2 separate regions of the Homo sapiens genome follow, and region 1 is linked to region 2. A link means that fine-mapping ties the variant in region 2 to the expression of a gene that starts in the linked region. Tissue or cell type: whole blood. Region 2 holds a variant in brackets; the other region holds the start of a gene. All regions are shown on one strand. Distances are from middle to middle.

Region 1 (5,113 bases), 620 kb before region 2:
TTTTGGCAGAAGGGACCGCTTTCATGGAAGACAATTTTTCCACAGACTGGGGGTGGGGTGGGGATGGTTTCAGGGTGGTTCGAGTGCAGTACATTTATCATTAGACTCTTTTTTTTTTTTTTTTTTTGAGATAGAGTCTCGCTCTGTCACCCACACTGGAGTGCAGTGGAGCCATCTTGGCTCACTACAACCTCTGCTGCCCAGGTTCAAGTCATTCTCCTGCCTCAGCCTCTCAAGTAGCTGGGATTATAGGCATATGCGCCACCACGCCCAGCTAATTTTTGTATTTTTAGTAGAGACGGGGTTTCACCATATTGGCCAGGATGGTCTCGAACTCCTGACCTCAAGTGATCCTCCCCCGCCTCAACCTCCCAAAGTGCTGGGGTTACAGGCGTGAACCACTGCACCCGGCCCATTTATCATTAGATTCTCATAAGGAATGAGCAACCTAGATCCCTCGCATGCACAGTTCACAATAGGGTTCACGCTCCTATGGGAGTCTAATGCTGCCGCTGCACTCAGCTTCTCTGGCTTGCCGCTGCTCACCTTCTGCTGTGCAGCCCAGTTCCTAACAGGCCACAAACGGGGAGTTGGGGACCCCTGATCTAGTAAACATCTAGGCAGGGTTTTGGATAATGGAGTTAGAGTTCCTGGGGAGAGGTCAGGCTGGCCATGAAACATGGGATGCCTTTGCATATAGGTGGTGTTGAAAGCCACAGGACAGTACGGGGTCTCAGGGGGTGAGCATAAAGAGAGGCGACATCAGATGGCCAAGGCCAGAGGCAGAGGAGGATGGGAAGGAGGGGCCAGTGGGGCAGGGGGAAGCTGTGAAGCCAGGGAAAAAGGGTGTTTCGCGGAAAAGGATCAACCTGGACCAGTGCTGCCCCTAGGCAGGGCAGGATGAAACTTAACCACCACGGATTCCATGGCCCCATGGCCTCCAGGCCACAGGGGACCTTGAGAAGAGAGATCTCAGGGGACGGGTGCGGACAAGAGCCCGCCTGGCATGGCTTCAAGAGATAACTGAAGGAAAGCAAGTGGAGACGCGATAAACAGACAACTCCCTGGAGGAATTTTACTCTCGAGAGGAGAATTAAAGGGTAGTAGCTGGAGAGGGATGTGGGGTCAAGAGAAGGTCTTTAACGACGAGAACTCTCACGGCGGTTTGTGCAGAACAGGGTGGGTGTGATGACTGTGGATGGAGAGGGGAGAACTGCAGCGACTCTGTCCTAGGAGGAGGTGATGGGCCGGGACCACCAAGCGAGTGGAGGGTGGACGCCCCTTCCCTCACCCCGACACCCGCATGTGCTCAGTGTCCGTGCCGCCGGCCCTAGTGCCTGGGCTGAACGCGGGGCCGGGACTCTGAGGACGCCTCCCAGGCGGCGCAGTCCGCTCTGGCCAAGGTGGAGCGGGACGCGGCGCTTCCGACGGTGCGCGGGTCGGCTCGGGGTTGCAGGGACATCCGGCGTCCGCTCCTGCCCTGTTTTCCTGCCTTCGGCAGAGCGTTGCGCAACTCTAGCTTTAAACGCCCCTGTCCCCCTCAACTTGTCTCCCCCAGCCCCTCTGATTTACAGATTCTGCAGTCCCCGAGGGTTGCGCCTACGATACCGACACTCGCGGCAGCCCTGCGAGGCGAGTATGATCGTCCCATTTTTCGGAGTAGCAAACTAAGGTTCAGAGACTACTATGTCCCAGGTCGGTCTGGTTTGAAGGTCCGCTTTCCTCTCCCTCCGCCAGCGGGCGGTGCGAGGGACTGGGCGAGGCAGCGCTTCCCTAAGGAGGCGACCCGCAGCCCCGGCCCCCTCCCGACTCCGCCCCGTTGCAGGGCCCGGGTCGGCGAGGCCTCTCAGCTCTAAGCCCGACGGGACTTGGTGATTGGGCAGGACGGAAGAGCTGGGTGGGGCTTTCCACCAGCGGAGAAAGTCTAGTGGGCGTGGTCGCGACGAGGGCGTGGCCTGGTGCCCCGCCCCCGTCCGCGCGCTCAAAGTGGAGGGTGGCTGTGGGGGCGGGGTCAGAACACTGGCGGCCGATCCCAACGAGGCTCCCTGGAGCCCGACGCAGAGCAGCGCCCTGGCCGGGCCAAGCAGGTATCGACGACCGCGCGGGGCGTCTTGGGCTGCACCAGGCGGGCGCCCGGGGCCTGCTGAGGACCACAAAGGGCACTGGGGGTCGTGGTCCAGGCTGTGCTTCCTCCCGCTGGCCCTGGCCCCTGCCTCCGCCCCCGCCCCCGCCTTCCTGCCGCTAAGCCGGCTGCGGCGGGGCCGATTGGCGCCTGCGCCGCTTCCTGCGGCCGGGGCCAGTCTAATGCATGGGGCCCGGGCGGGGGACTAAGGGGAAACTGAGTCACGTCGGTGTGGGAGCAGTTCTGTGTGGGAGGCACCACCCCCCACTGGGCTCGGGGAAGGATCCCCCTCCAAGCTATGCTTGAGGGTCCCAGCCCCCATCTGTCTCCACAGGGGCCGCACCCCACTCCCGCCTTCCCCTTCTTCAGCACCCAGGGGTCCCGCCCTGGCTCCCAGCAGCCTCGACTGGTCCCGGAATGGCTAGGAGGATCCGCTGCAGCCGCCTCCCTCCCCTCCCCTCCCCTCCCCTCCCCTCCCCCCCCCCTCGCGTCCCAAGCCCCCGTGTGCTCCCTCCGCTGGCTCTCCGCACAGTGTCAGCTTACACGCCTTATATAGTCCGAGCAGGCTCCAGCCGCGGCCTGCCTGCCGGGACCTGGGGGCGGGGGAGAGGAGAGCCGGCCCCTGACTCACCCGGCCGCCCGAGGCTCCAGGCTGGCTTGGGGGGAGGCCGCGCCAGTTTAGTCCCTCGGCCCACCCCTGGTTGCAAAGAACCTCAAGCCTGGATTCAGGCACCCCTCACCGTTCCAGTCCCAAGGGGAGGGGGGCTGCTCCTGTCTTTCCAAAGTGAGGTCCGCCAGCCAGCAGCCCAGGCCAGCCTGACAAAATACCTGCCTCCTATGGCTTGGGCGTGCTCAGGGGCTGCCCGTGCCTGCCTGGCCCCTGTCCAAGGCTGGTATCCTGAGCTGGCCCGGCCTGCCTGCCTGCCCGCCCACCATGCTGGCCACTCACCTTCTCTTCTCTCCTCTCAGGAGCCGGCATCATGGATTCCTTCAAAGTAGTGCTGGAGGGGCCAGCACCTTGGGGCTTCCGGCTGCAAGGGGGCAAGGACTTCAATGTGCCCCTCTCCATTTCCCGGGTGAGCCTAGGTTTGGGGAGGGGGCTCCCCCAGCGGTCTTTCGGTGCTTAGGTCTCCAGAGGGTGATGGGGGGAGTCCTAACAGGAGCTGGTCAGGGGCCAGCAGGCCAGGAGATGTCTAGGTCCGGAGATGTAGTGGTACCTGCCTGCCACAAGGACTCCCAATGAGGTGGATACTGGGAGGGAGCACCCAGGCTTCTCCAGCCCTGCACTGTACCCGATGCTGTTCTCCCAAGCTCCTGTGGCCACCTCTGAGGGCTGGAGGGAGGCTCATTGTGCAGGATGGGAGCCTAACATTTCAGGAGGTATCTAAACTTGAGGTGGCAATGCTTGGAGCCAGGCCCCAGGCAGGACACTGTGACTATAGGATTTCACTTCAGCCTCACTGCCGCCCAGGGAATAGCAATCCTCATCCCGTTTTTCCAGATGAGAGAAGAACTCATGGAGAGGTGGCGGGGCTCGCTCATCGAGTCCATGGTGAAGCAGGGATTGGAATTGAGGCACAGCATGGCGTACATTTTTTGTGGGTAGAAGGGGTCTCTCCCCAGCCTATGTAAGGACCCACATCCACTGTTCCCATTCAGGATGTGGTGGCCTTTGACCCCAAGCAGAAGTGTAGGACAGGGCTCCATTCTAGGGGCTTAACTTCAGCTTCCAAGAGCCTGCCCTGGTGTGGGTGGAGCTGGAGGCTGGCTCCTCCCTGTAGCAGGGGGATTGCCTTATAAGCCCAAGAATGCAGCCCCACGCTGGGATGGCCAACAGTGGCTGCGGTCTGCAGAGCTGAAAAGGGCTGGCCTAGGCCTGGCCCCCTGAACCCCACTGGTGGGCCTCTCAGCTGGTCACCAGGCTGCAGCTCCAGCTATATGGTCCAGTTGTGAGACACAACAAATTGCCTGCCCAGAGTGGGTGAGGCCAGCCTGTCGGCTGGCATCTCTGACTGGCCTGGGGGTCAGGAGGGGGTGGGGACTTCCTGCCCCTATATCCGCCTGCCCCAAGAGACCCACCCAGGCGCCGGGTGGGCAGGCAGCTGTTGTCAGGAAGCCCAAGGCAAGCCCAGCCTGGAGGGGCCCAGAGGGTCGTGGCCTGAGGAGGGGCTCAAGCTGGAGTCTGTCTGTAGGAGCTGGGCGTGGGGGTTAGGGTGGGCAGGCCAGCAGTGCTCTTCTCAGGGGTCCTTTGATGGCATTCTCCTGGAACCTGCCCCGCCAGCAGGGTAGTGAGGCAGTGGTTGCCCTATGACACACGTCCCACTACATAGCCCTCACACAGCCCTGAAACCTACCTGACGTCCTGCTCCCTGGGAAAGTGCTGGCCCAGTGTGTCTGGGGAGCCTGAACCTCAGTTTCTTCCCTGATGGAGATGACTTTCAGATATGGCCTGTTGGGGGCACTCCGGGCTCCAGCTCCCTGGTCAGCATCCCTGGCATGTGGGCGGGGCCACTAGCTGATCCCAGCCCTGGAGTTGGACCTGGGCCCACATGGGTGGGTGAGGTGGGCTTTTCTGAGTTAGGCCAGCCCCCTCCCCCTCCCCTGACCCCAGAATGGAGGGAGGTGGGAGGGGCAAGGGCTGGCTGTGGGCCCAGGCCTGGGAGATGAGGTAACGTCTGGGACTGGGGGGCTGGGCTGCTCAGGCTGACTCACCCCCACCTCATGCAGGGTCCAGCCCCCTGGCTTTTTCCCTCCTTGGTTCCTCTGGCCTTACCCTGCCCCTGGCTTGAGCCCCTCCCTGCCTCTCTCCAGCCACCCGCCCAGCGCTGTCTTCTGCTCTCCTGCTGCCCTCCCCACGCTCTGAACACCCCTCATCCTCTGTGCTTCCTGCCCTCCTCACTCTGGGAAGGGAAGCCGTCCCCGCCCCCCACCCCCTCTCCAGGAGCCAGCTAGCTGCACCCCAAGACCCCCACCTCGGGCTCAGCCCACAGC
Region 2 (5,184 bases):
AGAGGTAGAGAGAGTGAGCCCGAATCGTTGCCATCTCGGTATGGGAAGTGCTCAGAGGGTCCTTGTCTACATCAGTAAGTAGCTTCCACGTTGTCTGGCCTCTCTGCAGGAACCGGCACCAATGCCTGCTACATGGAGGAGCTCCGGAATGTGGCGGGCGTGCCTGGGGACTCAGGCCGCATGTGCATCAACATGGAGTGGGGCGCCTTTGGGGACGATGGCTCTCTGGCCATGCTCAGCACCCGCTTTGATGCAAGTGTGGACCAGGCGTCCATCAACCCCGGCAAGCAGAGGTGTGGGCTGGGCCCAGGCAGTGGTGGCTGGCTGTGACCGGTGCTGGGGATGGTGGCTGGTGGGGCCTTCTGCCGAGTGCACACATGTTCATGCAGGTTTGAAAAGATGATCAGCGGCATGTACCTGGGGGAGATCGTCCGCCACATCCTTTTACATTTAACCAGCCTTGGCGTTCTCTTCCGGGGCCAGCAGATCCAGCGCCTTCAGACCAGGGACATCTTCAAGACCAAGTTCCTCTCTGAGATCGAAAGGTGCCTGAGGCCTACATTGCCTCCCCCACTTCAGGGGGTCTTTCTGTCCACTGTGGGGGATTGCTGGCCATGGGTGGTGACGAGGTCTGCTCTGGAGGATGAAGTGGGAGAAGTCACGACCCACCTCCCTGTGCTCTCTTCCTTCCTGGCCCCCAGTGACAGCCTGGCCCTGCGGCAGGTCCGAGCCATCCTAGAGGATCTGGGGCTACCCCTGACCTCAGATGACGCCCTGATGGTGCTAGAGGTGTGCCAGGCTGTGTCCCAGAGGGCTGCCCAGCTCTGTGGGGCGGGTGTAGCTGCCGTGGTGGAGAAGATCCGGGAGAACCGGGGCCTGGAAGAGCTGGCAGTGTCTGTGGGGGTGGATGGAACGCTCTACAAGCTGCACCCGCGGTGAGTCTGGGTGTGCGGGCTGGGGAGGGAGGTGTGGCCAGGTGGGGCTGGTGGCCTGGGCTCACCTCAGCCCTCCTCTCACAGCTTCTCCAGCCTGGTGGCGGCCACAGTGCGGGAGCTGGCCCCTCGCTGTGTGGTCACGTTCCTGCAGTCAGAGGATGGGTCCGGCAAAGGTGCGGCCCTGGTCACCGCTGTTGCCTGCCGCCTTGCGCAGTTGACTCGTGTCTGAGGAAACCTCCAGGCTGAGGAGGTCTCCGCCGCAGCCTTGCTGGAGCCGGGTCGGGGTCTGCCTGTTTCCCAGCCAGGCCCAGCCACCCAGGACTCCTGGGACATCCCATGTGTGACCCCTCTGCGGCCATTTGGCCTTGCTCCCTGGCTTTCCCTGAGAGAAGTAGCACTCAGGTTAGCAATATATATATATAATTTATTTACATTCACGCCCGATAAAACCCCTATGTGCCCCGGCGGCCGGGCAAGGCTGTGTACATAAGGCCAAGAGTAAGTGCGTGAATGCACTTAAGACAAAGTCAGGACACGAGCTTCACATGACAGGCCCCGCGTGGGGCACCAGCCAGCCCTGGGGACGGGCACGCCACGCCACACACACACTCACCACTGTACAGCCTGGGACTCCCATTGCATATTCACAGGCCCCGCCGGGCAGGGCACCTCAAGGCTGGGGGAGGGGCAGGGGCAGGGAGGAGCCGTGGGGTGTCCCTGGGTGGGTGGAGAGGGCAGCATGTGAGAGGCAAATGTGCACCAACACTGGGCGTGAGACGTGAGCAGCCTCAGGTGTACAGCATGAGATGTGTGTGGTTGGGGGGTGTCTGCGTGACCCGGGAGGGGGGTGTGTGTGAGATGAGCACACGAGGCATGCGTGGCACGTGCTCGTGTGGTGGTCGTGTGCCTGAATCCAGGGGCTACCCCCTGTCCGGCTGTGGCCCTCGGTCCTGCAGGCTTGGAGCAGGGCCCCTCAGACGTGCCCCTACCCAGCAGGCACAGAAATGTTTGCATAAGGTCCAGCTCAGGCAGGAGCTCTGGGGCCCTGGCCCAGGCCCAGTGTGTGCGTGCATGGCCGTGTGTATGCGGGGCCCCTGGAGAGGGACGGGAGGAGAGGTAGCATCACACGCACATACACACACACAGATGGGCTGGGCCTGGCCCAGGCTCCAGGCACTGTCCCTCCTGGGCCCTGGGGCCGAGTGTGAGTGGCAGTGCCAGCCTGGCTAGGCAGGCCATGGAGAGGTGGGAGTTCGGGCAGGGTCTGAAGGACCAGCATTAAGGGACAGCTTCGGCCGGGAGGGGGCCTGTCCGAGCAGCTCTCCCCGGTGTGGGGAAGGGCCCCTGTCCGGCTTCTGCCTGTCCTTGGTGGGTGCCAAAGCTGGTGAGAGTGTAGGTGTCGGGCCTGGCCGGCCTCAGCACTCAGCCTCCGACACTGTGAAGAGGCCAGCGTCTGGCTGGCCCAGTCCAGCCACTGCTGCAGCCAGCTGGCTGAGGTTGCCGTTGGGGAAGTGCCGCGCCTCCCACAGGTTGAGGATCATGGCTGTGGGGCTGGGCTTGGAGGCAAAGAAGCTGAGATGGCTGTGGAGGGGAGGGGGGCCGTCAGCAGCCTGGCCTGGCCCCAGCCGACACCTCCTGCCCCCCCTGGCCCACCCCAGGGCAGGGCCTCCCCGAAGCCAAACACAATGACTGCCCCGGCCACTAGTAGATGCGGCACAGGCCCCACAGGGCCTCCTGTCCACCTCACCCACCCCGCCGCCGGGCAGGACTGTCGGTGGCCTGCGCAGGCCCTCTCTGCCCCTCTCCCGCCCACCTGTCCAGGTGGAGTTTCTGGGCCAGAGTCCGCCAGTCGGCACCCCGCCTACAGGGTGGGTCCAGGCTGGAAATTATCTTCTGCCGAATGAGGAAGGGGATCTTGAAGGCACTGGGGCCCACCAGGGCTGGGACCCCCGCTTCACTCTCCAGAGCCAGCAGCTCAGCAAACCTTGTGTCCTGGAGGTG[G/C]GAGGGAAAGAGGTGCCTGTTAGAACTTTCCCCAGGCCCGGGTCCACCGCCACCTCCTGCTGGGGGAGCTCCCAGACTCCCCCAGAGCATGGGGGCGGCATGAGCACTGGTACTTCCTGGGCACCTCCCATGTGCCAAGGCCCTTCTTACTGGGGCTCGGAGGTGCAGCGACCTGCCCAAAGCCACATAGCCAGAGAGCAGAGGAGCCCTCTGTGGCCTCCCTCCCTCTCCGCCCTTCTCCCCTCCAAGTCACTCTGCCCAGCCTCTGCTGACACTCAACACACACAGCTCTCTTCACGGCCTGAGTCCCCCCTGCCCAGCTCTCACCGCCAGAAATGCTCTTCCCCTTAATGCCGCAGCCAAACTGGCTCATTCTTTGGGGCCCAGTACAAAGCCCCTCCTCAGGGAAGCCCTCCAGGGTCTCCCCTCCTGCTGCTCCCATGTCCCCTGCACTCCCCTCCCCAAGTCCCATTTGCACCTGTGCCTCCCTGTCTCTGAGTCTGGGAGGAAGCTGCCAAGGGGTTTCTAGGAGGAGGTGGGCCTGGGGACAGGCGGGAGGGAGAGTGGGTGGCAGGGCAGGCAGGGCAGGAGCGTTTTGGGGGCTGGTGGGGAGTTGGTAGTGGGAGCACGTCACGGCGGTGCGGCAGCCCCTCCCGTCCACCTTGGTGATGTTGAAGTTGATGCTGAAGCTCTGCCCGTCGCCCTCCACCTGCCACACCCACAGCTTGCAGGCCAGGTCACTAGTGCTGGGGCTGACACGCTCCAGGGTGAAGGTGCAGTGCAAGTACCGCTGCGTGCCATTCCAGATGTGATAAAAGGGGATCTCCTGATGGGGATGCAGAGAGGAGGTGTCAGGTGAGCCCAAGCTCCAGGCCTCTTGTGCGCTGGCCACGGCCCTGGCCCTCACCTGGTAGCTGACAAGGAGCTTACTCTTCCACAGGGAGCTGGGCACATCGTGGATGGATAGGCGCAGGTTGTGGTAACTGTCCTTGAAGTGCAGGACCCGTGGCTCCTGGATCAGCTGTCCCCCCAGCTGCTTCTCCAGCTGCACCACCTCCTGCAGTGCCCCAGGTGGTCAGCCCAGGCCCCTCCCCACTGCGCCCAAGGCAGGCAGTCCACAGGGCCAGGCATAGCTCGGCCTCCCAGCGGCGGGGGGTGAGGGGCGGGAGATACCTTGAGTGCATCGTGGGTGTCATGCAGGCAGTAGACCCGGATGTTGTACTCGAGGGAGGTGCAGGCCACCGGCGCAAACAGAAGCAGCTTGAGGCGCTTGGCGGCAGCCACGCTGAGGGCCTCTCCCACCAGGGCAAAGCGGCCCAGCTGCTCGGTGAAGACGTAGCAGGCACTGGCCTCCAGCTGGCAGTAGTAGAGGTGGGAGGGCGCCTCCTCGCCCAGGTGCAGCACATCCTGTGGGCAGGGGTCAGTGGGTCAATTCGGCCCAGCCTCAGAGCCCTAGGGCCAGCTGTGGCTTCAAGAAGTGGCCGGAGACTGGGGAGGGGTGGGGGTGCGGCTCAGGACCACCCAGCGGTGGAAGGCCGGGTGGAGCGTGCAGTTAGCCCACGTTCCCTTCTGGAGCCCGGGTCAGTTCCCTGCTCACCTCCCAGCTGCCCTCGCACGACTGCTTTTTGAGGCGCAGGCTCCAGCTGTCAGGGCTGGGCTCCCCACAGTGGTCCATAGCCAGGATGACTGGCCGGGTGAGCAGGACGCCAGGGGGTCCACAGCTAACGATGGGACTCAGCAGGGTCTGACAGCCAGCTAGGGGCAACCTCAAGTGGGGAAATATGGGTGGGGAGGGAAAGGTGTCAGTGGCCCATCCTGGGTCCTGAGGGCTAGGCCAAGGGCAGGGCAGCAGCATCCCAGGGGCCAGGGGCTTGGGCTGCAGGACCACGTGGGGCTTAGGCATAGCTCTTTCCCCCGCCGCCTCGGGCCAGGCACAACAGTGGGTGGGCAGGGGGCTTCCTGGGGACCGAAGGCAGCAGGCAGGTCCCTCCCACCCCCGGCAACAGGGCCCGCGGCCACACCTCACGTCTTCCGGCTTGTGCAGCGTGAGGTAGATCTCATAGATCTTCCCTCGGGGTATGGCATCTGGGGGGATGAGGAGGCTGATTCCTGGAACGGCAGGAAGAGGGCCAGGGCTTACCCACTGCCAAAGCACCCAACACCCCACCACACAGCCCCTCCAGGAGCCTTCCTGTGAGGACTGACTGGTGCCAGCCCGGCCTGGGGACAGAGGGGCCTCAAAGACTGC

Evidence for each region. PIP is the estimated chance that this variant, and not a neighbour inherited with it, causes the effect.
Region 1: PDLIM7 starts here. The variant in region 2 is fine-mapped to the expression of PDLIM7 in whole blood (TOPMed, PIP above 0.99).

What each region holds. Positions count from the first base shown.
Region 1 is chr5:177,494,502-177,499,614 of GRCh38, reverse strand. PDLIM7 (PDZ and LIM domain 7) reads left to right here and starts at 2,011. Exons shown (of 13, transcript NM_005451.5): 1 at 2,011-2,087; 2 at 3,092-3,198. The coding sequence starts at 3,103. RefSeq lists enhancers at 398-1,137, 1,356-1,405, 2,618-3,359 and silencers at 1,616-2,325, 2,736-2,815, 4,513-4,807, 4,754-4,903.
Region 2 is chr5:176,877,053-176,882,236 of GRCh38, reverse strand. It overlaps UNC5A (unc-5 netrin receptor A), which reads right to left. Exons shown (of 15, transcript NM_133369.3): 9 at 4,958-5,045; 10 at 4,534-4,702; 11 at 4,110-4,343; 12 at 3,844-3,993; 13 at 3,598-3,762; 14 at 2,749-2,927; 15 at 1,339-2,516. The coding sequence ends at 2,351. HK3 (hexokinase 3) reads left to right here. Exons shown (of 19, transcript NM_002115.3): 16 at 110-293; 17 at 390-545; 18 at 702-935; 19 at 1,020-1,368. The coding sequence ends at 1,164. Among named protein-coding and RNA genes, the nearest start is that of HK3, 20 kb to the left of the region's middle. RefSeq lists a silencer at 1,917-2,282. The variant G/C (reference allele first, on the strand shown) is at 2,937.